7 linked regions of the Homo sapiens genome follow. The protein of the gene in region 1 purifies or fractionates together with the protein of each later gene. This does not show direct contact. Each region holds a gene or a part of one and is shown in the gene's direction. Other genes may lie near its edges. The genes, in order: NIPBL, MED13L, STK38, KSR2, SETX, NFIL3 and PPT1.

The links.
Region 2: the proteins of NIPBL (region 1) and MED13L purify together in Homo sapiens (affinity purification with mass spectrometry, with the first as the bait; one large-scale study listed by BioGRID). This does not show direct contact.
Region 3: the proteins of NIPBL (region 1) and STK38 purify together in Homo sapiens (affinity purification with mass spectrometry, with the first as the bait; one large-scale study listed by BioGRID). This does not show direct contact.
Region 4: the proteins of NIPBL (region 1) and KSR2 purify together in Homo sapiens (co-immunoprecipitation; one large-scale study listed by IntAct). This does not show direct contact.
Region 5: the proteins of NIPBL (region 1) and SETX purify together in Homo sapiens (affinity purification with mass spectrometry, with the first as the bait; one large-scale study listed by BioGRID). This does not show direct contact.
Region 6: the proteins of NIPBL (region 1) and NFIL3 purify together in Homo sapiens (affinity purification with mass spectrometry, with the first as the bait; one large-scale study listed by BioGRID). This does not show direct contact.
Region 7: the proteins of NIPBL (region 1) and PPT1 fractionate together in Homo sapiens (co-fractionation; one large-scale study listed by BioGRID). This does not show direct contact.

The regions. Positions count from the first base shown.
Region 1 is NC_000005.10:36,984,769-36,988,268, forward strand, and holds part of NIPBL (nipped-B-like protein), read left to right. Parts: coding exon 1-1,533; intron 1,534-3,500. UniProt on the Homo sapiens protein: Plays an important role in the loading of the cohesin complex on to DNA. Forms a heterodimeric complex (also known as cohesin loading complex) with MAU2/SCC4 which mediates the loading of the cohesin complex onto chromatin.
Region 2 is NC_000012.12:115,959,694-115,963,193, reverse strand, and holds part of MED13L (mediator of RNA polymerase II transcription subunit 13-like), read left to right. Parts: intron 1-1,795; coding exon 1,796-1,928; 3' UTR 1,929-3,500. UniProt on the Homo sapiens protein: Component of the Mediator complex, a coactivator involved in the regulated transcription of nearly all RNA polymerase II-dependent genes.
Region 3 is NC_000006.12:36,495,480-36,498,979, reverse strand, and holds part of STK38 (serine/threonine-protein kinase 38), read left to right. Parts: intron 1-493; coding exon 494-617; intron 618-1,104; coding exon 1,105-1,200; intron 1,201-2,174; coding exon 2,175-2,269; intron 2,270-3,065; coding exon 3,066-3,196; 3' UTR 3,197-3,500. UniProt on the Homo sapiens protein: Serine/threonine-protein kinase that acts as a negative regulator of MAP3K1/2 signaling. Converts MAP3K2 from its phosphorylated form to its non-phosphorylated form and inhibits autophosphorylation of MAP3K2.
Region 4 is NC_000012.12:117,528,491-117,531,990, reverse strand, and holds part of KSR2 (kinase suppressor of Ras 2), read left to right. Parts: intron 1-283; coding exon 284-325; intron 326-977; coding exon 978-1,050; intron 1,051-2,933; coding exon of another isoform or gene 2,934-2,994; exon of another isoform or gene 2,995-3,445; intron 3,446-3,500. UniProt on the Homo sapiens protein: Location-regulated scaffold connecting MEK to RAF. Has very low protein kinase activity and can phosphorylate MAP2K1 at several Ser and Thr residues with very low efficiency (in vitro).
Region 5 is NC_000009.12:132,264,487-132,267,986, reverse strand, and holds part of SETX (probable helicase senataxin), read left to right. Parts: intron 1-3,001; coding exon 3,002-3,500. UniProt on the Homo sapiens protein: Probable RNA/DNA helicase involved in diverse aspects of RNA metabolism and genomic integrity.
Region 6 is NC_000009.12:91,413,833-91,417,332, reverse strand, and holds part of NFIL3 (nuclear factor interleukin-3-regulated protein), read left to right. Parts: exon of another isoform or gene 1-1,767; intron 1,768-3,500.
Region 7 is NC_000001.11:40,076,753-40,080,252, reverse strand, and holds part of PPT1 (palmitoyl-protein thioesterase 1 isoform 1 precursor), read left to right. Parts: intron 1-1,594; coding exon 1,595-1,693; intron 1,694-3,339; coding exon 3,340-3,411; intron 3,412-3,500. UniProt on the Homo sapiens protein: Has thioesterase activity against fatty acid thioesters with 14 -18 carbons, including palmitoyl-CoA, S-palmitoyl-N-acetylcysteamine, and palmitoylated proteins. In contrast to PPT2, PPT1 can hydrolyze palmitoylated proteins and palmitoylcysteine.

The DNA.
Region 1 (3,500 bases):
CTACGGGAAATGGGTCAAGGCCAGCATTAATGGTTAGCATTGATCTTCATCAGGCAGGAAGAGTGGACTCTCAGGCTTCTATAACTCAGGATTCAGACTCCATAAAAAAGCCTGAAGAAATCAAACAATGTAATGATGCACCTGTTTCTGTTCTTCAGGAAGATATTGTTGGAAGTCTTAAATCTACACCAGAAAACCATCCTGAGACACCTAAAAAAAAGTCTGATCCTGAGCTTTCAAAGAGTGAAATGAAACAAAGTGAAAGTAGATTAGCAGAATCTAAACCAAATGAAAACCGATTGGTGGAGACAAAATCAAGTGAAAATAAGTTAGAAACTAAAGTTGAGACCCAAACAGAAGAACTTAAACAGAATGAGAGCAGAACAACTGAATGCAAACAAAACGAGAGCACCATAGTTGAGCCTAAACAAAATGAAAATAGACTGTCTGACACAAAACCAAATGACAACAAACAAAATAATGGCAGATCAGAAACAACAAAATCAAGGCCTGAAACCCCAAAGCAAAAGGGTGAAAGCCGGCCTGAGACTCCAAAACAAAAGAGTGATGGGCATCCTGAAACCCCAAAACAGAAGGGTGATGGAAGGCCTGAAACTCCAAAGCAAAAAGGTGAGAGCCGCCCTGAAACTCCAAAGCAAAAAAATGAAGGGCGACCTGAAACACCAAAACACAGGCATGACAATAGGAGGGATTCTGGAAAGCCATCTACAGAGAAAAAACCTGAAGTGTCTAAACATAAACAAGATACTAAATCTGACTCACCTCGGTTAAAATCAGAACGAGCTGAAGCCTTAAAGCAGAGACCTGATGGGCGATCTGTTTCTGAGTCACTAAGACGTGACCATGATAATAAACAAAAATCAGATGACAGGGGTGAATCAGAGCGACATCGAGGGGATCAGTCTAGGGTTCGAAGACCAGAAACATTGAGATCCTCTAGTAGAAATGAACATGGCATTAAATCTGATAGTTCAAAAACTGATAAACTAGAACGAAAACACAGGCATGAATCAGGGGACTCAAGGGAAAGACCATCTTCTGGGGAACAAAAATCAAGACCTGACAGTCCTCGTGTTAAACAAGGAGATTCTAATAAATCAAGATCTGATAAACTTGGTTTTAAATCACCAACTAGTAAAGATGACAAAAGGACAGAGGGTAACAAGAGTAAAGTAGACACTAATAAAGCACACCCTGACAATAAGGCAGAATTTCCAAGTTATTTGTTGGGGGGCAGGTCTGGTGCGTTGAAAAATTTTGTCATTCCGAAAATCAAGAGGGATAAAGATGGCAATGTTACTCAGGAGACAAAGAAAATGGAAATGAAAGGAGAGCCGAAAGACAAAGTAGAAAAAATAGGATTAGTTGAAGATCTAAATAAAGGAGCTAAGCCTGTAGTTGTGCTACAAAAACTGTCTTTGGATGATGTTCAGAAACTTATTAAAGATAGAGAGGACAAATCAAGAAGTTCCCTTAAACCTATCAAGAATAAACCATCAAAGTCAAATAAAGGTAAGAATACTTCTACTGATGTCATTTATAATATAATCGATTTTAAGTGTTAAGATTACTAAGTTTTAAAAAGGAAATTTACAAAAATTAGAAAGCTACTACATGAAAATATAACATTTATGTCAAACAACAGGAAATTTTTTTCAGGAGTATAGATAAAAAGTTTCCAGTGAATTTTTTTTTCCCCACAGTTTTTTTCTTCCCACCCACTACTCAAGGTAGTTATGAATGTTACTGCTATTTGGTTACACAGAGATAAGTTATTTTGCTGTTTAGTTATTTCTTATATTTCTGAAATATGCTTAAGTGAATGTTGTATTAAAATAGCTGTCTTTAAAAACTCTCTATTTAAAAATGTCTTACAATACTACATTCTTACAGACCTGTGTCTGAGCCAATTATTGATGAATAATTTGTATAGTTTAGAAAGTTATATAAAAGGTTATTTTTCATTTTGTTGGGGAGATGGTTAGTTAAATATGTTTTATATTTTTAAAACATATCTTTTTGTCCTTGTTTATGCAAAGGTAATAGGGAATGGTACTTACTTTTTAAATTTGGTTAAATTGTAAGTTTGTGGGAGGCGGGGGACTGGTGTTATTTTTGCATGGTTTCTGAATTCTCTGGTTACTTGAGTAAAATTATTTCCAAAGGGAGAAGAATGTCTTAAGTGCCAAAAGATAATGGCCATTTGTGCAGAAGATATACTTCTGTATCCCTTTGTACACAAGTATTTAAAATAACTTTTTTTATTTTTAAATAGAGATGGGGTCTTGCTTTGTTGACCAGGCTGGTTTCGAACTCCTGGCCTCAAGTGATCCTCTCCTCTCAGCCTCCCAAAGTGCTGGGATTACAGGCGTGAGCCACCGTGTCCATACAGTCTAAATATACTGAGGTGTAGTGAAGGCAATAGAACTGAGAGTTTATTTAAGTTTTCCTTCTGTGAAAGAGAATTATTAAGAATTTAGATTTATACTTATATATAACCAAGTATATGAAATCTGGAATTGCATTGGCCAAGAGGGTAACCATTGCCTTTTTTGGCTATTTAAATTTAAGTTAACTAAAATTGGAAGTTCATTTCATTAGTAGTCACATGTGGCTGTTGGCTACCATATTGGACAAAACAGAACATTTGCATCATCACAAAGTTGTATAGCACTGCAGTGTATTAGGAGATACAAAAAGTGTGTGGTTATTGTTTTTCATAACATGCTGTTGTAGCTTGTCTACCAAGAAAGCTCTTTGAAAACATATTATAAAGAACTCTTTATTCAAAGAATGACTTGTGGCTAATCTGTTGTTATTCTTGCTTGGTCTTCGTCAACATTCATTTTTTCACTGTTAATTTATTTCCTTTTGTCTTACAATAATGAAAAAAGATTGCCTTCTGAGTCGCTAATATTTGTGTTCTTTGAGTGAAGCTTTTAAATTTTAAATTATGGCAATTAGACTTACCAAAAGTCAGTTAAGACATCAGCCTTAATTAATAAGTAGGCTTTTTTATTTAACTTGAATGCATCTTTTCAGAGTTACTTGTTAATATAAAAGAGGTTGTAGAATGTGGGGGTTAACACCACAATTGTTTTCTTTTAGGTAAAAATTTTCTTTAAAATTTTTTAGTGAAAGTTTGGGAGTAGCTTATATTTATAAACTAAAGAGTATGGCTATACAATTTTAGAAGAGTCAGGTGAAAGATGGAAAGTGGTACCCTCTTGTTCCTTTGATCTGGACCATCTTTCTCTCCCTCCCCTCTCAGCTTACCCTAGCCTTGCTTTCTAAACTCTGTTCTAACAAAGAGTCTTTTAAAACTCCTTAAAGAACATCCAGAAGTGAATATAGCTTTTAGTTAGTAATTGGTATATTATTTCACCTGGGTTTTTCACATGCAATAATATTGCCTATGAATATGTTTTTAGCACCAAAATGCGTTTCTGATAGTATACTTTTAATGCAGATGTATATAC
Region 2 (3,500 bases), on another chromosome or scaffold:
ATTTATAGTTGCCTTTGCTTCCTGTTCAGAGCAGGCACTTCATGGTGATGAAGAGAGGTCAGATCTTGGGGGTGGATAGTTAGAAGACAGTGTCTGGAACTCTTAAAGCACCTCACATTGAAAACACTTTTTATGCTTCCTGAGATAGATTATGTATTTTTGTTTGTTTATTCGAGATGGAGTCTCGCTCTGTCACCCAGGCTGGAGTGCAGAGGCGTGATCTCAGCTCACTGCAAACTCCGCCTCCTGGGTTCATGCCATTCTCCTGCCTCAGCCTCCCAAGTAGCTGGGACTACAGGCACCCGCCAGAATGCCCGGCTAATTTTTTGTATTTTTAGTAGAGACGGGATTTCACCGTGTTAGCCAGGATGATCTCGATCTGACCTCATGATCTGCCTGCCTCAGCCTCCCAGAGTGCTGAGATTACAGGCATGAGCCACCGATTATGTGTTTTTTTAAAAATGGACTAGAACATAAATGACATAGTTGAGAAGTGCATTCCAGAAGTGTGTATTAATCAAGCCACAGGCATTCTTCATCTACCTTGAGAAAATATACAGGCCTTTTCTAATGTTTTCTAACTCTTAAATGGTTAGGAAATGATAGGAAACTATATATTATAGATTAATGTATAATTATAGTTATGGATAAAAATAAAGAACCTGATCAACATAAATTTGGCTTCCAGGCCCCCTAGAGCAGGGGTCCCCAACCCCCGTCCATGCCTTGTTAGGAACCAGGCCCCACAGCATGCGGTAAGTAGCAAGTGAGCGAGCATTACAGCCTGTGCTCCGCCTCCTGTCAGGCAATGACATTAGATTCTCATAGGGGCACAAACCCTATTGTGAACCGCACATGCAAGGGATCTAGGTTGTGTACTCTTTATGAGACTCCTAATGATTTAAGGTGGAACAGTTTCATCCTGAAACCATCCCCCACCACGTGGAAAAATTGTCTTCCACGAAACTGGTCCCTGGTGCCAAAAAAGGTTGGAGACTGCTGCCCTAGAGGAACACTGTCCAATAGAAATACAATGTGAACCTCAAATCTAATTAAAATTTTTCTGTTAGCCACATTAAAATAGTAAAAAGAAACTGGTTAATTTTAGTAATATATTTTATTTAACTCAATATACTCAAAATGTTATTTCAACATGTAACAATATAAAAATATTCATGAAATATTTTACATACTTTTCTTTTTTTCGTTTTCTTTTTCTTTTTTTTTTGGAGACGGAGTCCTGCTCTGTCACCCAGGCTGGAGTGCAGTGGCATGATCTCACTGCAACCTCCGCCCACAGGTTCAAGCAATTCTCCTGCCTCAGCCTCCCAAGTAGCTGGGATTACAGGCATGCACCACCACGCCTGACTAATTTTTGTATTTTTAATAGAGATGGGGTTTCACCATGTTGGCCACCTGGTCTTGAACTCCTGACCTCAGGTGATCCACCCCCACCTCGGCCTCCCAAAGTTGCTGGGATTCCAGGCGTGAGCCACTGCACCTGGCCCCTAAGTGTTTGGGCTCCAGTGCCTACTTTACCTGCAGTCCACGCAAGTTCCTACTGGCCTCACTGGCGGAGCTCAATGGCCATGTGTGGCTGCTGGCTACTGTACTGGATAGTCCATATCTAGAAGGAAGGAGGAACATGAGACAAAGGATGAGGGAAAGAGCCTGGGGCAAGTTAAGGAATGCCTTTGAGACCTCCTTCCTGCTAAGATCTGGAATGTATTAGAATCTGAGAACCAGCCTTCCCTCTTGAGGCTCACGCCCCTGCTCTGTGTGTTCTCTTTGGCAGGTTTGTTTTGGAGCAGTACAACGCTCTGTCCTGGCTCACGTGCAATCCGGCCACCCAGGACCGTACTTCCTGCCTTCCCGTCCACTTTGTGGTGCTCACTCAGTTGTACAATGCCATCATGAATATACTTTAATTGGAAAAGCACTTGTTCTCTCTGGCTCAGTTCCTTCTCCCTGCAACCTCAGTCCAAGGAACCTGCTACACTCTGCAAATAACCCACATCCTTTTCTTCAGACCACTCTCCACAGTCCTGCACTGTGATTCCTTCTCAGCAGGCACATGTCAATTCTGCAGTGTTCATTACCAGAGTGACTCCTTGACACTTCTCTCATGGACCTGGAAACTTCCATAAGTGGTGACTTTCAGCCAGTGCGGTGGTGTGTGTAGCCCCAACCACTGGTCCCCAGGAAGTGGTGGTGGTTGATGGCTTTTCAGCGGGAAACAGAAGAGACAGTGTCCTTTTGCACAAGAGTCTGTGTTTTCAGCCTCTGTATACAATTGAGGGCAGTCTAGCCCTTTGGATGAAATCCTCTTAGTTACTGGTGTATGGCCTGTGGGTTACCTGAACTCCATAATCTGGGACTTTTTAAAAATAAGAACCAGCTCAAGTACATGGTTTCATACTGGGGTTTCTGTCTCCCTAGTGTTCCCATCCAGATTAGCATGAGTGCTTTGGTTGACTTCAAACCTGTGTGTCAATGCAGAAGGTCTGGAGACAGCTTCATTTTGTTTATTTATTTTAATTTGTTTTGTCATATGGTTTTTGTGACTTTATTTTTTTAATTCACAAGGACCAGGTACAGTAGCTGAAACCCAATTCAGATCCACCATAGGATTCTTTGACTACATACCTCTGTCCTAGAAGCCGGAAAAGGAGTAAAAACACATTGGGGAGATCATGCCTAAAAGTAATATATTCAAAACCACCCAGCAGTAGGTTTTGTTAACAACAAACTGGATTTTAAAAGTTCTGCCATGTTAAGTGGCCAGCATTTCATGAAGGATAACATTTTTATACAGAAGGCAGTCAAGCTCAACTCAGAGCCATGGAGGCAAGTACCTTAATTAGTTTTATATAGTCACAACGGAAATATATTTTCTAGTGAATTCTTATTGGAAGCCAGGTCTCTCCTCTCATTAGATCAAAAGGGACTTATGTACATACAACAATTGAAAGTGTTTGCTCATGAAATCAGTTATAAATATGGTGAATTTTTTCTGGACCATAGGAATATTATTTCAAAGAAATATTACAACTTAACCATTAAATTAGTACTTGAAGTTGAGCCTTTGTGGTGGGACTTTTTAAAAAAATGCCTTTTTAAAGCATTAATGGCTAATTGAAGTATTTTATGACTCCTCATTCCTGGCCCAGAGGGTTGTCTTTGAAACCCTGTTTCTAACCCTTGTGTTGTGTGTTTCTGTCTGAGGACAGTGGGTGTGTACTGGCCTCCCGGGAGCCACTGTGACCAGGCCTTTGAGCTCTTGTCATCTGTGGAGAGAATCATGCAAATTTTAAAAGTTCTTCCAAGAGACTTCCATGTCCTGGTTATTAACAAAAAAGGAAAAATGTAATAATTGATATGATTTTGTAAAAGTATTTTTCTTGAAATAATCTAAAGTTTAAAACATTATATTAAAAAAAAAGTTGTGTGGTGGGAATGTGAAAGCAGAGAAATAACTTGTAAATGGATAATTTTGTTCT
Region 3 (3,500 bases), on another chromosome or scaffold:
ATTTTCTGGGATAAGTGGAAATCCTGTCTGTGTCATGGAGGGATGGCCATACAGAGTAATCCAGTAGTCATTAAAGACATACAGAATCAGGCCGGGCACAGTGGCTTATGCCTGTAATCCCAGCACTTTGGGAGGTCGAGGTGGTAGTATCTCTTAAACCCAGGAGTTCAAAATAAGCCTGATCAACATAGCAAGACTCTGTCTTTACAAAAGAAAAATAAAAAATCAGCTGGGTGTGGTGGTGCTCTTCTGTAGTCCCACCTACTGGGAAGGCTGAGGCAGGAAGATCACTTGAGCCCAGGAATTCAAGGCTGCAGTGAACCATGATTGTGCCACTGCACCCCAGCCTAGGTAACAGAGTGAGACCCTGTCTCAAAAAAAAAAAAAAAAGAAAAAAGAAAAAAAAAGACATAGAATTTTATTAAGGAGAGTAATCTCGGTCAGATTCAAAGTTCTGGAGTGTAAAAGCTCCGAAGTTCCTTTTTTATTACAGGCTACCCACCTTTCTGTTCTGAGACCCCTCAAGAGACATATAAGAAGGTGATGAACTGGAAAGAAACTTTGACTTTTCCTCCAGAAGTTCCCATCTCTGAGAAAGCCAAGGATCTAATTTTGAGGTATTAGAGAACATCCCTCCACCTTCTTTCTCAGCTTTTTAATATGAATGATTCCATTTTTTTAAAAACTTTTGTTATCTCCTGAATCTGCTTTCTGTTTCCTCCTATTCCTCTCTTTAAACAAATAAAAAGGCTGTGCATGGTGGCTTACGCCTATAATTCCAGCACTTTGGGAGGCTGAGGCAGGGGGATCACTTGAGCCCAGGAGTTTGAGACCAGCCTGGACAACACAGCAAAACCCCACCTCTAAAAAGAAAAAATTGGCTGGGTGTGGTGGAACCTGTGGTCCCAGCCACTTGGGAGGCTGAGATGGGAGGATCCCTTGAGCCCAGGAAGTTGAGGCTGCAGTGAGCCATGATTGTGCTACTGCACTCCAGCCTGGGTGACAGAGTGAGATGCTGTCTCAAAAAAAAAAAAAAAAAAAGAAAGTTTTTCTTTTTCTGAGGAGACTGCTTGAGATGTGCTGAAAGGCCTCTGTCTTTTCCAGGTTCTGCTGTGAATGGGAACATAGAATTGGAGCTCCTGGAGTTGAGGAAATAAAAAGTAACTCTTTTTTTGAAGGCGTTGACTGGGAACATATCAGGTATATCCATATAAACACTTTCAGAATTATTTCAGAAAGTCTCTAGTTTACTTAATAATAATTTGGAAGGACCATCATTGGCAAGCCAAGTAAGGGAAGAGAGCTTCTTAGAGATTTAGGGTCTTTTCCTGATTTTCATTCATGGTGAAGATTGGGCATTAGATTTTTTGTCAGCCGTGTGTCATGGAATATATTGAATCTAGCAGTTATTTACAAAGTGAAGTGAACTTTGTTTTTTGAGGTGGAGGGAGCATCTAGGAAGCGTATTACCCTTTACCTAGAACTCAGCAACCTCTTAGGTCCCGCCAGCGGGACTGTTCCTGCCCACAGGGTGGAAGGTATCACTGGAACATAGAGAAGGGAGAAAGGAGTGGAGGAAAGATTGGAGGGGTGGAAGTGGAGAGGGAAAGGGAGAGTGAAAATTGTTATGGTGGGGGTAGTAGACTACGGCCAATAGCCGTGAGAGCCTAGACCACCTGCTGTAGTCCAGACCTTCTCATTCAGCATTCATTGGTTATTAAATAGAAGGTGAAGTTTTCATTTATTTTATAATTGTGTACTGATTTGCTGCTTGTGATTTTTTACCTTTGCCACTTTTCTAGCCATCCTACTTGGCACCTCCAGTGGAAGAAGGGCAGAGCCCTACACAAGGGGACATTTAGAGGTTCAGTTTCCCTTTTTAGTAGACAGGCCAGGCCATGGGGGGAGTTGCACTAACTTCACGTTTTAGTTATTCTTATCTTTCTTTCTAGCTATGAATGATTGAGTTATTTTTTTAAAATCATAATTTACTTTGGGTACAGTCAGTTGGCTTGGTTGGTCAGTGTTTATAAGTTTTTCAGAGAAAATAAATGCTGCCTGCCAGTGAAGAGTCTTCTCATGTCAGACCAGGGGTCTTTTTTGGAGAAAGACTTGATTGGTATGATCCATTTGATTACTAACTTAGTAATTTTTGGCATGTGTATTCTTGGCAGAGAGAGACCTGCTGCAATATCTATTGAAATCAAAAGCATTGATGATACCTCAAACTTCGATGAGTTTCCAGAATCTGATATTCTTAAGCCAACAGGTAACACCACCAGCATTGTCTCCTGCTGCCTTATAAGCACATTATTTACCCCCAATTTTGGGATGATGTTTACAAATCAGGGTAGTGAACATGGAGAGGAATTTCATTTCTTCAGGTTCTTTGTAAGTACTTTTCTAATTCTAATGCTGGGTAGTGGTGAAACCTTGGTGAATGGAAAATGAGTATCAGCTCCCATGTTTAGACTGCTCAACTGGGTGAGTAAGTCACAAAAATCTGTTCTTTTGTTATTTACTAAGTGTTAGGTAATCTGAAATGACAGGAATGGGAAAATAAAACATTAAAAAATTTGTGAAGAAATATGAGATTTAAAGAACATGAGCAAGAAAATGTGGAAAATTCATAGAGTGAGGCCAGGCGCGGTGGCTCATGCCTGAAACCCCAGCACTTTGGGAGGCCGAGGTGGGCAGATCACAAGGTCAAGAGATCGAGACCATCCTGGCCAACATGGTGAAACTCCATCTCTACTAAAAATACAAAAATCAGCTGGGTATGGTGGCACACGCCTGTAGTCCCAGCTACTGGGGAGGCTGAGGCAGAAGGATTGTTTGAACCCGGGAGGCAAGGTTGCAGTGAGCTGAGATGACGCCACTGCACTCCAGCCTGGCGACAGAGCAAGACTCTGTCTCAAAAAAAAAAAAAAAAAAAATTCATAGAGTGAAAAATAAGCTTTCCCAAATAGAAACTGGTGTGTTCTTCATAGTCCTGTCTTCAGCACCGTGAGCAGTCCATTGGAGGCAAGGCAGTGAATCAACTCTCACATCTATTTCTTTCCCAGTGGCCACAAGTAATCATCCTGAGACTGACTACAAGAACAAAGACTGGGTCTTCATCAATTACACGTACAAGCGCTTTGAGGGCCTGACTGCAAGGGGGGCAATACCTTCCTACATGAAAGCAGCAAAATAGTACTCTTGCCACGGAATCCTATGTGGAGCAGAGTTCTTTGTATAACATCATGCTTTTCCTCTCACACTCTTGAAGAGCTTCCAAGAAGTTGATGGAACCCACCAATATGTCATAGTAAAGTCTCCTGAAATGTGGTAGTAAGAGGATTTTCTTCCATAATGCATCTGAAAAACTGTAAACAAAGACAACCATTTCTACTACGTCGGCCATAAACAGCTATCCTGCTTTGGAAGAGAAGCATCATGAGCCAATTTGATAGGTGTTTTAAAAATAACTTGAGTTTTCCTAAGTTCATCAGAATGAA
Region 4 (3,500 bases), on another chromosome or scaffold:
CATTTCACAAAAATGGTATTGTAGTCAGAATGTCTGTTTGAGTTGGAGCAGTCTGATTTTAGGGAGTGTGAGATGTCAGATGGGAGGGTCGGCATGGATGTTTAGAGTTCTGGTTTCTTTACACATGTTTGCAGTCCCTTGTCTGCAGGGATGTCTGCAGAAGTATGGAAACTCTTGAAGGTGGGCAGAGAATGACCATGTGGTGGCTGTAAGAGCTCAATCTGGTCCCTGAAGCGATGTCTCCCTGGGGACACTCACTTTGATGTTTTCTTTCTTTTGCAAGCATCCCACTACTACAAATACAAGCAGCAGTTCATCTTCCCAGGTGAGTTTCATGTGAGCTGGAAGCAGCCCCTTCTGAACAAGCCCCGCTGCATTGCAGGAGTTTCTGGGATGAATGGAGGCAGATGTTGTGGGGGTGCCTAAGATCAAAGAGGGTAGTGGAGTCACCACACTCCAGGATAATGGCTGAACATGGAAGTGGAGAAGAAAGAGTGGGCACAGTGGGACCCAAGGAGGTCCCAAGGCACCGTGGAAAGGCCTGAGAGGGTGGAGTGCTGTAGAACACTGGGCGAGGGTGAGGAGGGGTCTAGAGCCATGTGGCAGGAAAGAGATGGTCATAGGGTCCTGAGCTGGGTACTGAGAGGATGTGAAACCAAGGGGCTTTATCATCCCAAAGGGAACCCAGGAGAAAGAAAGATTCAGAGATGACCAATGAATGCTTCAGGCTAGATATTTGAGGGTTCTGGCAGCCCCCTATTCAACAATGAGGAATTTTGTTGAGGATGTCATCCAGAACCCTGGTCCAGCTGAGCAGGTAGAGTCCAGGTGGTCCAGGAAAGGAGAAAGGAGATTGGCCAAGGGCAGAGATCCAAGATCTGGTGAAAAATTGGCTGCCATGTCGCCCAGGAATCAGGCCTTTGCGGGGGTTGTGGACTTCACATTTTTTTTCTGAGTGTTCAATCTCTGGTTTTCAGATGTGGTGCCGGTGCCGGAGACGCCGACCCGGGCGCCCCAGGTCATCCTGCATCCGGTGACCTCGAATCCAATGTAAGTGAGACAGAGACATCTTCCCCCTTTCCCAAGCTTCCCAGCCCTGGCCCTACAATCCACTCAGGTTCCCTATCTTCTTTCCTTCTCTTCCTGGAACTGATGGAGTTGGGGGCAGAGGGAGATGTACAAGGGGGTCAGAGAGACATAGGGAATAACTTAGGCAAAGAGAAAGGGCGTGACAGCTCAGACAGAGAGATGGAGAGAGAGGCAATGCTGTTCCTCACGAGCAGCTATGCCTTGTGTCTCTGACCCTGCCTGTCAAATGCAATTTCCAGGGGCTGGACCGTTTCCTAAGGACCCATAACCTCCCTGTGATTAGGAAGAAAACTTTCCCCGGGTGATAGCTAGTACTTAATGAAAGGGCAATTATTCCATGTCACTGAACATGGAATAACTTTCAAAAGTCTCATTGAGGTTTATGGAATCAGCAAACTATAGCCCATGGGACAGATCCAACCTCCTGCTTGTTTTTATTTAAAGTTTTATTGGAACACAGCCATGCCTATTTGTTTACAATGTATTGTGCATGGTTGCTTTCTCCATGCAGCAGCAGAATCGAGTAGTTGTAACATAATCTGTATGGCTTGCAAAGCCAAAAATATTTACTCTATGACCCTTTGCAGAAAGAAATTTGCTAACCTCTGGTTTATATTATTATAAAAATAATATAAGCTAATTTTGGAAAATGTGGGCTATTCTTTAAAAAGGGAAAGGCAAAATAATCACTCATGATCTCACCACTGTTAAAACTTCTATGTGTGTTCTTTCCATTTATATTTTACATAGTTATGACCCACAATATATGCAAGCAGCTACCATCCTGCTTTGTTATCTTTATGCCAAACATCACATTTTATGAATATTATTTTAGCCTCTCCATAGACATTGTTGGTTTTTGTTTTTTGTTTGTTTGTTTTGAGACAGAGTCTCACTCTGTCACCCAGGCTGCAATGCAGTGGTGCAATCACGGTTCACTGCAGCCTCAGCCTCCTGGGCTCAAATGATCCTCCCAGCTCAGCCTCCCGAGTAGCTGGGATTACAGGTGTGTGCCACCACACCCAACTAATTTTTGTATTTTTTTTTTAATTTTTTATTTTTGTAGAGACAGGGATTCACCATGTTGCCTAGGTGGGTCTCAAACTCCTAGGTGCAAGTGATCATTCCACCTCAGCCTCCCAAAGTGCTGGGATTACAGGCATGAGCCACTGCACCTGTCTGATATTGTTTTTAATGGGTGTAAAATGACATATTGATGTAGAATAATTTTCTTAACCATTTTCCTATTGCTGGATTTTACATTGCTTCCCATATTTCATTGTTGTAAATAATGCTGCAATGAACATCTTTGTGCATAGCATCCTTAGGAAACAGACCCTCTTTTCAGGTGGTTTATTGCTTGTGCAGCAGAAGTGAAGTCACCTTGGCCAGGCGCAGTGGCTCATGCCTGTAATCCCAGCACTTTGGGAGGGCAAGGTAGGAGGATCACCTGAGGTCAGGAGTTGGAGACCAGCCTAGCCAACCTGGTGAAACCCCGTCTATATTAAAAATACAAACATTAGTCAGGCGTGGTGGCACACAACTGTAATCGCAGCTACTTGGGAGGCTGAGGCAGGAGAATTGCTTGAACCCAGGAGGTGGAGGTTCAGTGAGGTGGGATTGTGCCACTGCACCCCAGCCTGGGCAACAGAGGGAGACTCTGTCTAAAGAAGAAAAAAGTGATGTCACAAAGTCACCTCCTTAACTTCTTTGGTTGCGATGGAAGCCTGGGGCTTGCTAGGATTTGACCAGTTTCCTAACTCACCTTTGTGCCTACTTAGTTTTTCTTCTGGGTCCCCTAACTGCTTCATCTTTTCTGACTGGTCTTATGGACTTTGTTAAAGACTTACATGGTACATCTCTGAAATCAAAGGAGCAGCAACTTGCCGGGGGATATGGTGCTGACATCTAGCTCGAGATCATTTCTCTGCTTCACATAAACCAATTCTACAATTTGTGCAAGATGAACTCCAGGTTATTAACTGACAGTCCAGAGGTACCAGCGAAAAACAGAGTCAATAGCTGCTTGCGATCTGCTTAAATGTGCGCGGAGTGATGACAACTCTTTGCAGAAGGAAATACTTGAATAGCCCTGGCTGCTGGAATCACGCCTTGATGCAGAGAGGAGGGTGGCCTGTTTTGGTTTTGGGCATGAGGAGGGACTCCAGCTGCATTGTCCCAGCCAAGTCTCCCCCAGGGCATCAAGTTCTCAGCATGTCAGCTGTCATCGTGCAGGTTCATTCCACTTTCCCAGGCTGTGCTATGAATAATTGGTTAATACCATGGCGAATGCCACTTTGTGGTTGACCTTTCTTTCTCCTTCTTTTAGTTCTTGTGGTCTTTCAGACTCTTTCACCAGGACCCCCTCCAGCAAGTGGATTGACTCTGTGGAGTCAGCCACTTCCTGCAAT
Region 5 (3,500 bases), on another chromosome or scaffold:
CTAGAGATACATCTTTTAGTGATGCCTTGATTAAAGGAGGCTTTGTGGGCACTACTGTTTTTCATCCTCCCTTAAGTTGGCACCTCATGGTGTTGATGTGTCTTGGCAGTGCACTCTGGATGGATGAGGCGCATCATGATTGTGAAGGGTGGGGTGCAGGAGGCAGGGCAGCCCAAGGAGGACATGGGAAGTAGGGTTTGCAAGGTTATTCTGTAACCCTTTTTCACATTCCGTTTAGACAGTGTTTGGGAGCCCCTGGGTCACACTTGCACAACTGTGCAGACCACTGACCTCCAGCTAATGGCACCGACATTGTCTTCACTCTAGGAAGGCAGTGCTACAAAAAGAGACAGACGAGAATCTGAAACTTCCCGACATGTCAGCTGGGCTTCCTAACTTTTTTTGTCCTTGGGCTTTTTCTTTGTTGTTTTGGGGATTCATTTGCTTTTGTTTCTAAGTTTTTAGCCTAGTTCCCCTTATGGGAATGGGATCAATCATTAAAGCGTTTGATTTCCTCTGAGAAACCAAGGCTAATAGTGCCTGCTCAGAACTGTTTCTGTGATCTTAGGAATGGATTAAACACCAAGTTTAGGTGTAGTGAACTTAGCAAAAATTGCAAGGCCATCTGCTTCACATATGTGTTTGAGCCACAGGCTAAGGATCTCTAGAGATCTGAGTGAGAAAGAGAACTGAGCCCCCAGAGCCTGGCGCTCCCTCCACAGACCTGTCTTCAGTATGCCAGCCACCGGGCCAAGCATTTTATTCTGGTCACATGACTTTCTCCAAACCTTGAAAAACTACTGTGAAGTCAGCTTATTACCATAGTTCATCAAATTCAAGAAACCATTCATTATAATATACACCACTATTTTATGTACCATTATTAGACTATGACACAGTGCCTTATTTTCACTTAGAACTTTCATATTTATTGAAAGGACTCTTAAGACTTTAGACAGATTTTTACCATATTCTTATCCATACATAGAAAATACAAGTAAAATAATAGGTTAAGATATTCCTAAAAATATTTCACTTTCAGAATTTAGCACGAATGAATCACTTCCCAATCCATAGTCATCAGTGTTGTCATTCATCCCAAGTGCAATAATAAGGTTGGCAATTTAGCATTTGCTAAGAGTTACACCATTGTCTCCAGGATTTCTTAGAACCCTTTATCTCCAGTGTATAAGGTTTTTTTGGGGGTTTTTTTTTGAGACAGAGCCTCACCTTGTTGCCCAGGCTGGAGTGCAGTGGCACAATCTCAGCTCACTGCAACGTCCGCCTCCTGGGTTCAGGCGATTCTCATGCCTTAGCATCTCAAGTACCTGGGATTATAGCTGTGCACCACTACACTTGGCTAATTTTTGTATTTTTAGTAGAGACGGGGTTTCACCATGTTGCCCAGGCTCGTCTTGAACCTCTGACCTCAGGTGATCCGCCCGCCTCAGCCTCCCAAAGTGTTAGGATTACAGGCATGAGCCACTGCACCTGGCCCAGTGCATAAGTTTTAATGCTGGTGTTATCTTGTCTTATCAGAAAATGTCTGTAGAAGGTTTTCAGGCATTATTTTTAAATGGTTTATTGACTAAAAGTCTAAGGGTTATAATTGCCTCATCATGTAATTTCCAAGGATAGGTACATGGCCAAGAGGCTCCCCAAGGTCAGAAATGCTAAAATGTGAAAGCAACGTGCACTTTAGAATCCATTAAATAAAATATTACTCCTATTTTACAGATGAGGAAACAGGCTCAGAGAGGTCAAGTGACTTGACCAAGGTCACACAGCAAGTAAATACTGTGCAGCCTCACTGCTTCCCTAACATACCTTTATGAACAGTACAGGAGCCCCCATGAGAGGGTAGCTATCCTTTTTCTTCTTTTCTTTCTTCTTTCTAAAGAGACCCGAATTCTAGTGGTTGTAAAGCAGCAGCCTCCTCTGAAGAAACTCGGGAAGAGAGGAGAGGTGCATGTGTTTGGCAACTTTCCCGATGGGATTTAATATCTTAAGCTCCTGTAGGAAACAGGCAGAAAGTGAGATGATATCTTGAGATCTCGGTGGATGAAGATGTTTTAGCCATTCGGGGTTTGGGAGGCCTTTAGAAATCCAGTGAAAGCCTTGGGCCTTTTTCTAGAATAGTCACATGCACTCAGAAGTTTGCTTTCTGAAACCAGACCTTCCTGTTTCAGAACGTTAGCCCTGCCAAGAGGTGTAGGCAGTACTCTAGATCACCAATGTCCAAAGGACCTTTCTGTGATAACGGAAATGTTTTGTGTCTGCACTGCTCAGTACAATAGCCATTAGTCGTGTGTGACCGCTGTGTACTTGAAATGTGGCTGATGCAATTTAGGAACAGAATTTTTTATTTTAATTTATTGAAATATAAATAGCAACATGATGCTCCTAGTGACTAGTGCAGACCTGCGTTGCAGTTGAATGCACTGATAAAAATGGCTGAAGTTCGGCCAGGCACGGTGGCTCCTGCCTGTAATCCCAGCACTTTGGGAGCTGAGGCGGGCGGATCATGAGGTCAGGAGATCGAGACCATCTTGGCTAACATGATGAAACCCCGTCTCTACTAAAAATACAAAAAATTAGCCGGGCGTGGTGGCGGGTGCCTGTAGTCCCAGCTACTCGGGAGGTTGAGGCAGGAGAATGGCGTGAACCCGGGAGGTGGAGGTTGCAGTGAGCCAAGATCGCGCCACTGCACTCCAGCCTGGCAACAGAGTGAGTCTCTGTCTCAAAAAAAAAAAAAAAAAAAACAAAAGTTGAAGTTCTCCATTATAGGTTGTGACCAGGTCTTATTTTTAGGAATGGGACTTTATCATTTTTTATTTGAATTTATTTTTTCCTTTCATCCTTGTCTGACGAGTAATGAATCTTGAGAATATGTTCATACAATAATATGTATTATTTGTTCAGAAATGAAAGCTGGAACTCTATGCTTCCCAAGCAGTGTCTCTTTGGGGTGTAATTATTTCTCCCTTCTCATTGTTTCAAGGAAAACCAGCATTGGAATCAGCTGATTCAGGATGCTCAGAAGCGTGGTGCCATTATTAAGACCTGTGACAAAAACTATAGACATGATGCAGTGAAGATTCTGAAACTCAAGCCTGTGCTGCAGAGAAGTCTCACTCACCCTCCTACCATAGCCCCAGAGGGGTCCAGACCCCAGGGTGGTTTGCCCAGCAGCAAGCTAGACAGTGGATTTGCCAAGACATCTGTTGCTGCTTCTCTATACCACACACCCTCTGACTCCAAGGAAATTACTCTTACTGTTACTTCAAAGGACCCTGAAAGACCTCCTGTTCATGACCAACTTCAGGACCCACGACTGCTGAAGAGGATGGGCATTGAGGTCAAAGGAGGAATATTCCTTTGGGATCCACAACCCTCGAGCCCCCAGCATCCTGGAGCAACACCTCCTACGGGCGAGCCGGGCTTCCCTGTCGTTCACCAGGACCTGAGCCATATACAGCAGCCCGCTGCTGTAGTGGCTG
Region 6 (3,500 bases), on another chromosome or scaffold:
CAGTTTAACATAACTTAGGTTTACCTTGAAGACATTTTTTTTTCCTTTACTGTTATCTGTATTATATAACAGGGAGAAAACAATACATTCAGAGAGTAGAGGGAAAATAAGATAATTCTATAATGTTTCCAAATCATTGGGCATATCAAATAGTATTTCATCTTCTATTGACAGAATTTTAAAAACAAAATATATATTGCAATTTGCAATAAAACTTACCCTTTATAGATAATTAATAACAAAATGTTCTCAGAGTAGATTTTAATGTTTAGACTATTAGTAAGATTTCAGATGATTGAAACAAAGCATGTTTATTCTTTTCTTTTGTGGAGCTTGGATTGTTAAACATTAGTTCTGGGAGAGACCAGGGAAGATAAAGGTCTATCATAAACATAACTAATGAGATAACTCCTCAAGGATAAATTTGGTCTAGAATTATTGTTATGAGGTTATATTCTTTTATAGAATTTTCTAAATCAAATCTTGTACTTAATTAAAAACAATAGGGTAATCTGACTTAAACTTTAAAAATCTGGGCTTATGAAATATAATTCTTGCTATATAATTCTTGCTTAGAGAAGTAGTGTGATGGACTATACAAAAGCATTAATTAGTGATGGCACCTTCGGAGTATGTATGGAAAAATATGTCAACTGGTAGGTAATAATACCTGCTCTTAAATTTCTCTTTTTTATTTGTGTTTTCAAGGAGAGTCATATCATCTAATGTGTGTAATGAAGTTAATCGTGCTGAATACACTAACATCATAGAATTGGCATGTAGTGTCAATTATTCACCAAAAAAGAAACTTAAGCAATGACTAATATACCACAACATTAGATGTTGATTTGAAAAGATGATGCATAGATGAAGTAATTGTTAAATTAATCATAAGGGAAAATATTGAGGCTTGAAATAAATTTGTTAGGTTAGCATAAATCCTGAGGCTTTTTGAAGGCATCGTAAACTACTTTTGCATTTGCTTTAAGTTCATTGTTGAGGGGCATAAGGAGAGCTCAGAGCCCATCTGTGCCCAACTGCTGTGTGGTCTTGGGAAGGTCAGCCTGTCTTCTAGCTGATTAATCTGCAAAATGAGAGGGTCAGAGAGACACTGTCCCCCGCCTCATGTTGAAAACAGATTACACTCTTGGATTTGTTAAAAAAAAAAAAAAAAGAAGAAGATCATAGGTGACAATGTCCACAGCTATCATATTTCTTTTTCTCTATTTAACATAATTAGAATAGCCAGGAGGTTAAAATTTTAGTAAAGATATGAAAATTAATAAAATGTTTTCTCAATTCATAAATAGTGCCAGATCTGAAACATCTAAGGAGGATGGAGAAAAGTTCTAGATAGTATCTTTGCTGGCTAAAGAAGTTAAGACAGCATCTAAGAGAAGTTAAGGAGCCAGGCGTGACGGCTCACGCCTGTAATCCCAGCACTTTGGGAGGCTGTGGCAGGCGGATCACCTGAGATCGGGAGTTCAAGACCAGCCTGACCAACATGGAGAAACCCCGTCTCTACTAAAAATACAAAATTAGTTGGGCATGGTGGCGCATGCCTGTAATCCCAGCTACTTGGGAGGCTGAGGCAGGAGAATCGCTTGAACCCAGGAGGTGGAAGTTGTGGTGAGCCAAGATCGCGCCATTGCACTCCAGCCTGGGCAACAAGAGCAAAACTCCTTCTCAAAAAGAAAAAAAAAAAAAAAGAAGAAGTAGTTAAGTTAGCATAGTGCCTTACTGCGCCCAAAGTAACTTAGTAAAAGGGTATGTATTACTCAGAAATGAAAGTGACACAAAAGAGAACTGTGTGTAAATGAGACTGCATTGCAAAGATGCAGAACCACCTGTGAAAGTGTAGGAGAGAGTAAAGGAACTGGGCCTGAATGTACGCTCTGCCATTTAGCTATGTGACACTGGGCAAGTCACTTGACTTCTCTGAGCCTTAGTTTTCTTATCTGAAAATTGTCACCAAAAGTGAATGAAAGAAAGCAGGTCAGGCTCCCAGTGCCCATTCTGTGGTAAGTGTTCAATAAATGGCACCAATTATGATTGTTTTTGTTATTATCTCCATGACAAGAAGAAAGCCTGCACCCCAGGCCCATGTTTGTGCAACTCTGCACTCACACCTGGTTCCCCTCTGCTCACCTGTTTGTCTCCCACCCACCCACGACTGAGCGCCTGGTCTCGGGAGTTTGGTTTTTCTCTCCCTCTTTATGTGCCCCTAGTCTCCCCTTGTGCCCAGTACACAGTAGGTGCTCCATATGTGTTGAATAAACAAATTAATGAATAAGAGAATCTCTCTGTTAATAAGTAAAATATCTTCTTTACAATTCACATAACATTAAAAAGAAAGCATCAAAAAAGTTTTCTGTTTACAAAACTCTCTTATATAAGGTATATGGGTGACTGTCAATGAAATGTTGAGCACCTAATATCTTCAGGTTTTTGCTAGAAGACAAGTATATTTTAATTTCCGCCCTGAAGTAATTCGCAGTGTAGTTGGGCACAAAAGACAAACACGTGGAAACACACACAGTGTATATGATTGTGCCTGTCTCCGTATCATCCCATAATGCTGATAAACTCTTTTCAACACTGCAAGATTATTTGATAGATAATATTACAGAAAATATCCTAAGATAGTGTGGTGATTTGCCATTGAGTTGTAGAGACCATGAATGTAATACATACAGATGAGAGCAGAATCACAGATTTATAGTGACATGCCATGAAATTCAAATAGGAAGAAGATGATTAAAAACAAATGAGGTGGCCTGGCGAGGTGGCTCACGCCTGTAATCCCAGCACTTTGGGAGGCCAAGGTAGGCAGATCACCTGAGGTCGGGAGTTCAAGACCAGCCTGAACTCCCCATGGAGAAACCCCATGGAGTTTCCCCATCTCTACTAAACCCCATCTCTACTAACATGGAGAAACCCCATCTCTACTAAAAATACAAAAGTAGCTGGGCTTAGTGGCACATGCCTGTAATCCCAGCTACTTGGGAGGCTGAGGCAGGAGAATTGCTTGGACCCTGTAGGCAGAGGTTGCGGTGAGCCAAGATCGTACCATTGCACTCCAGCCTGGGCAACAAGAGTGAAACTCTGTCTCAAAAACAAAAAAGCAAATGAAGTTTTCTGTAGGTTAATGTACCAACAAAGTTGTAGAGATGATAAAGTAGTCATATAGTACTTAGACACCTAGAAGACATGAGTTAAGGAAATTTTAAGACAAATGGGGCTATTTCAGTTAAATAGAAATAGGACCTATTGTGAAGGCTCCTTCCCAATTGGGCCCCAACCTTGAAAAGGTCCTAGAAGTTTAGGAAGAGTAACTAAGGCAGACAGAATGGCGGGGCATTTCAAAAGCATTACTGTAAATCTAGTAAGTGAGGCAAAATAAAGGAATCTGATTTTTTTTTTTAAGAAGGAACAAATAAGATAACACATGGAAGAGAAAGATTCTCAGGTGGAGAAAATAACCAGAATAATAGTCTGCA
Region 7 (3,500 bases), on another chromosome or scaffold:
CTTTGAGATTCAGTTCCCTTTAGGGAGGTTGAAATTCATTTGCCTTTCTTCCCTTAAGTTCTTTCCCTCTCCTAGTGTTGAAACACACAGGATAAGCTCGGCAGGTTGCTGACTGGGCGAGGTGGAAATTCACAGCTGCTGTCTTAATGAGGGAAGCTTTCCTGATGGATCAGTCTGGGGGTGGATTTTTCTCTAGAGATTTACCTAAAAGAGAGATACAGTAGGCACTGAGTATGTCCCAGACACAAACATGGTTTGGTAGGTTCTGGTAAACTAGATGGCTCAGTTTATATTTGACTCATCTGGAGAGTCTTTTGGTTTTTTGTTTTGAAACAGTTTGAAGGGAAAAACAAACCAAACAAAAAACAACACAGAATAGTATATAGCAGAACGACCCAGAATTTGCAGTTTCTTATTTTGTCTTGGCTTTCTCTGACTAGAAGCCTCTCACCTATGTGATGGACACCTATGGAGTGTGGTGTAAACTCATAGTTGTACCTGTATGCCATGCTCAGTGGCATGTCAGTCAGATAGGATGGTAAGAAAAGCCTATAGAAGGCCGGGCGTGGTGGCTCACGCCTGTAATCCCAGCACTTTGGGAGGCCGAGGTGGGCAGATCACTTGAGGTCAGGAGTTCGAGACCAGCCTGGCCAGCATAGTGAAACCCTGTCTCTACTAAAAATACAAAATTAGCTGGATGTGGTGGCGATCACCTGTAATCCCAGCTACTCTGGAGGCTGAGGCAGGAGAATCGCTTGAACCTGGGAGGCAGAGGTTACAGTGAGCTGAGATGGTGCCACTGCACTCTGGCCTCGGTGACAGAGCGAGACTCCATCTCAAAAAAAAAAAAAAAAAAAAAAGGAAAAGAAAAGGCTGTGTAAGCAATCCCGTGACTGGGTATATACCCAAAGGAAAACAAATTGTCCTGCCAAAAAGACACTTGCACTCGTGTTTATTGCAGCACTGTTCACCATAGCAAAGACATGAAATCAACCTAGGTGCCCATCAGCGGTAGACTGGATAGAGAAAATGTGGTACATATACACCATGGAATATTACACAGTCATAAAAAAGAATGAAATCCTGTTCTTTGCAGCAACATGGATGCAGCTGGAGGCCGTTATCCTAAGCAAATGAACACAGAAACAGAAGACCAAATATCACATGTTCTCACTTATAAGTGGGAGCTAAACATTGGGTACACGTGAATATAAAGATGGGAACAATAGACACTGGAGACTCCAAAAGCTGGGAGGGAGAGGCTAGGGCTGAAAAACTTCCTGTTGGGCACTGTGTTCACTATCTGGGTGAAAGGATCAACAGAACCCCAAACCTCAGCATCACACAATATACCCTTATAACAAAACTACACATGTACCCCCCTGAATCTAAAATAAAATATTTTGTTTTTTAGAAAAAAAGAAAAAAAAAAGCTGTACAGGTATATCCTGGTCAGGAAGCTGGAAAACAGCCCATACCCATGGGGAAGAAACACAGTGGCACAGGGTCAGGGAGACCAGAAAACAGGAAGGCTTTACTCCCTCTGCTGGTGTCTGATGGTAATGACCTTAGGTGTTGCTGGCCTTTCTTTCAGGGTATCAATGAGTCCTACAAGAAAAACCTGATGGCCCTGAAGAAGTTTGTGATGGTGAAATTCCTCAATGATTCCATTGTGGACCCTGTAGATTCGGAGGTGAGACACTACTTAGGCCACATGCCAGGAGAGTAAATGGCATTAAAATAGGGCTGCTGGCCGGGCACGGTGGCTCATGCCTGTAATCCCAGCACTCTGGGAGGCCAAGGCGGGTGGATCACCTGAGGTCAGGAGTTCAAGACCAGCCTGGCCAACTTGGTGAAACCCCATCGCTACTCAAAATACAAAAAGAAATTAGCCGGGTATGGTGACAGCCATCTGTAATCCCAGCTGCTTGGGAAGCTGAGGCAGGAGAATTACTTGAACCCAGGAGGCAGAGCTTGCAGTGAGCCAAGATCGTGCCACTGCACCCCAGCCTGGGTGACAGAGCGAGACTCTGTCTCAAAAAGAACATAAAATGAAATTGAAATGAAATGAAAAAATACAGCTGCCTGCTGGGGAAAAAACCTTCAGTCCCTTCCACCAACTTTTGTATAAAACAGTTCTTCACCTGAGGTCCATAAATGGGACACTGAAGATTGTAATCAATCCCCCAACCCCAAAATTCTATGCAAAATTATGTAATTACATTCTCTGGGGAAGGATCTATAATTTTAATCCATTTTCCAGAGATCAGAGACCCAAAAAATGTTCAGAATCACTAGCCCAAAATATATAAATTCCTAAGCTTGGCCTCCAAGGTCTGCCTTGATCTGGCTTCACCCCATTTTCCAGCCTAATCTGCCTTGTCTGCACGCTTCATACACTCTTGATCAAGCCATATTGTACTACTTGTGCTTTTTCTCTCGTATGCCTTGGTTCATATATTTCTGTCTCTAGAATGCCCTTCCTTGGCTTCTCCACCTGACAATTTCTATTCGTCTGTCAAGGCAAGGATGCCATCCCCATTCCAAGCAGAATGTGATCGCTTTTTTAGAATCATCAGCCTCTGTTAAAACACTCATCACGTTATGTCACACCACCAGGGATTGGCCGATTGTGGCCCACAGGCCCAGTCCATCCTGCTACCCGTTTTGGTGCTACCCACGAGTAACACCAAACACTAACATAAAAGAATGTTTTTAACATTTTTTAATGGTTGGGGGAAAGAATTGGACATATAAAGATTATGTAAAATTTATTTAGACATATCAAGTATTTGGACATATAAAGATTATGTAAAATTTAAATTTCAGTGTCCTTATTGGAACAGTTTTAGTTACTTTTTACATACTGTCTGTGGCTGCATTTGTTACAGTGGCAGCAATGAGTAGTTACAACCATATGGCCCTTAAAGCCTAAAATATTTTGTATCTGGCCTTTACAAAAACGTTTGCTGACCTCTGTACTCAACAGTGAATTGTTTCCGTGCCTTGCAAGACTGGGAGCTTTTTGGAAACAGATTATGTATTCATCCTTGAATGTCTAGAGCTCAGCACAGGAATTTTTCACATTTATTGCTTAATAATTTTAGGAAGCAGAAATTCTGGGGAAGTGGAAAGCGGCCTCTCAGAAAGATTAACTCATCCCTCGGGCTCCACCCTTAAGAAGAGATGACTCAGACGCACCCTATCCATTTTTCCTTCTTCCTACAGCTTTATGATGTTCACTTTGTTGGCAGTTTTAGCTTCTAACCAGTCTCAAATTATTTTGGCAGTATGTGCTGTGTGTCATATCTGAGCTTCTTTCCTTTGCTTCTTCTGCAGTGGTTTGGATTTTACAGAAGTGGCCAAGCCAAGGAAACCATTCCCTTACAGGAGACCTCCCTGTACACACAGGTAACTGGCAGGGAGTCTATCTTGGGAGGTTGGTGTTTTTTCAGCTCCCAGTTCCTGAAGCTGCTATGTTCTTTGGTGCTGGAGCCCTT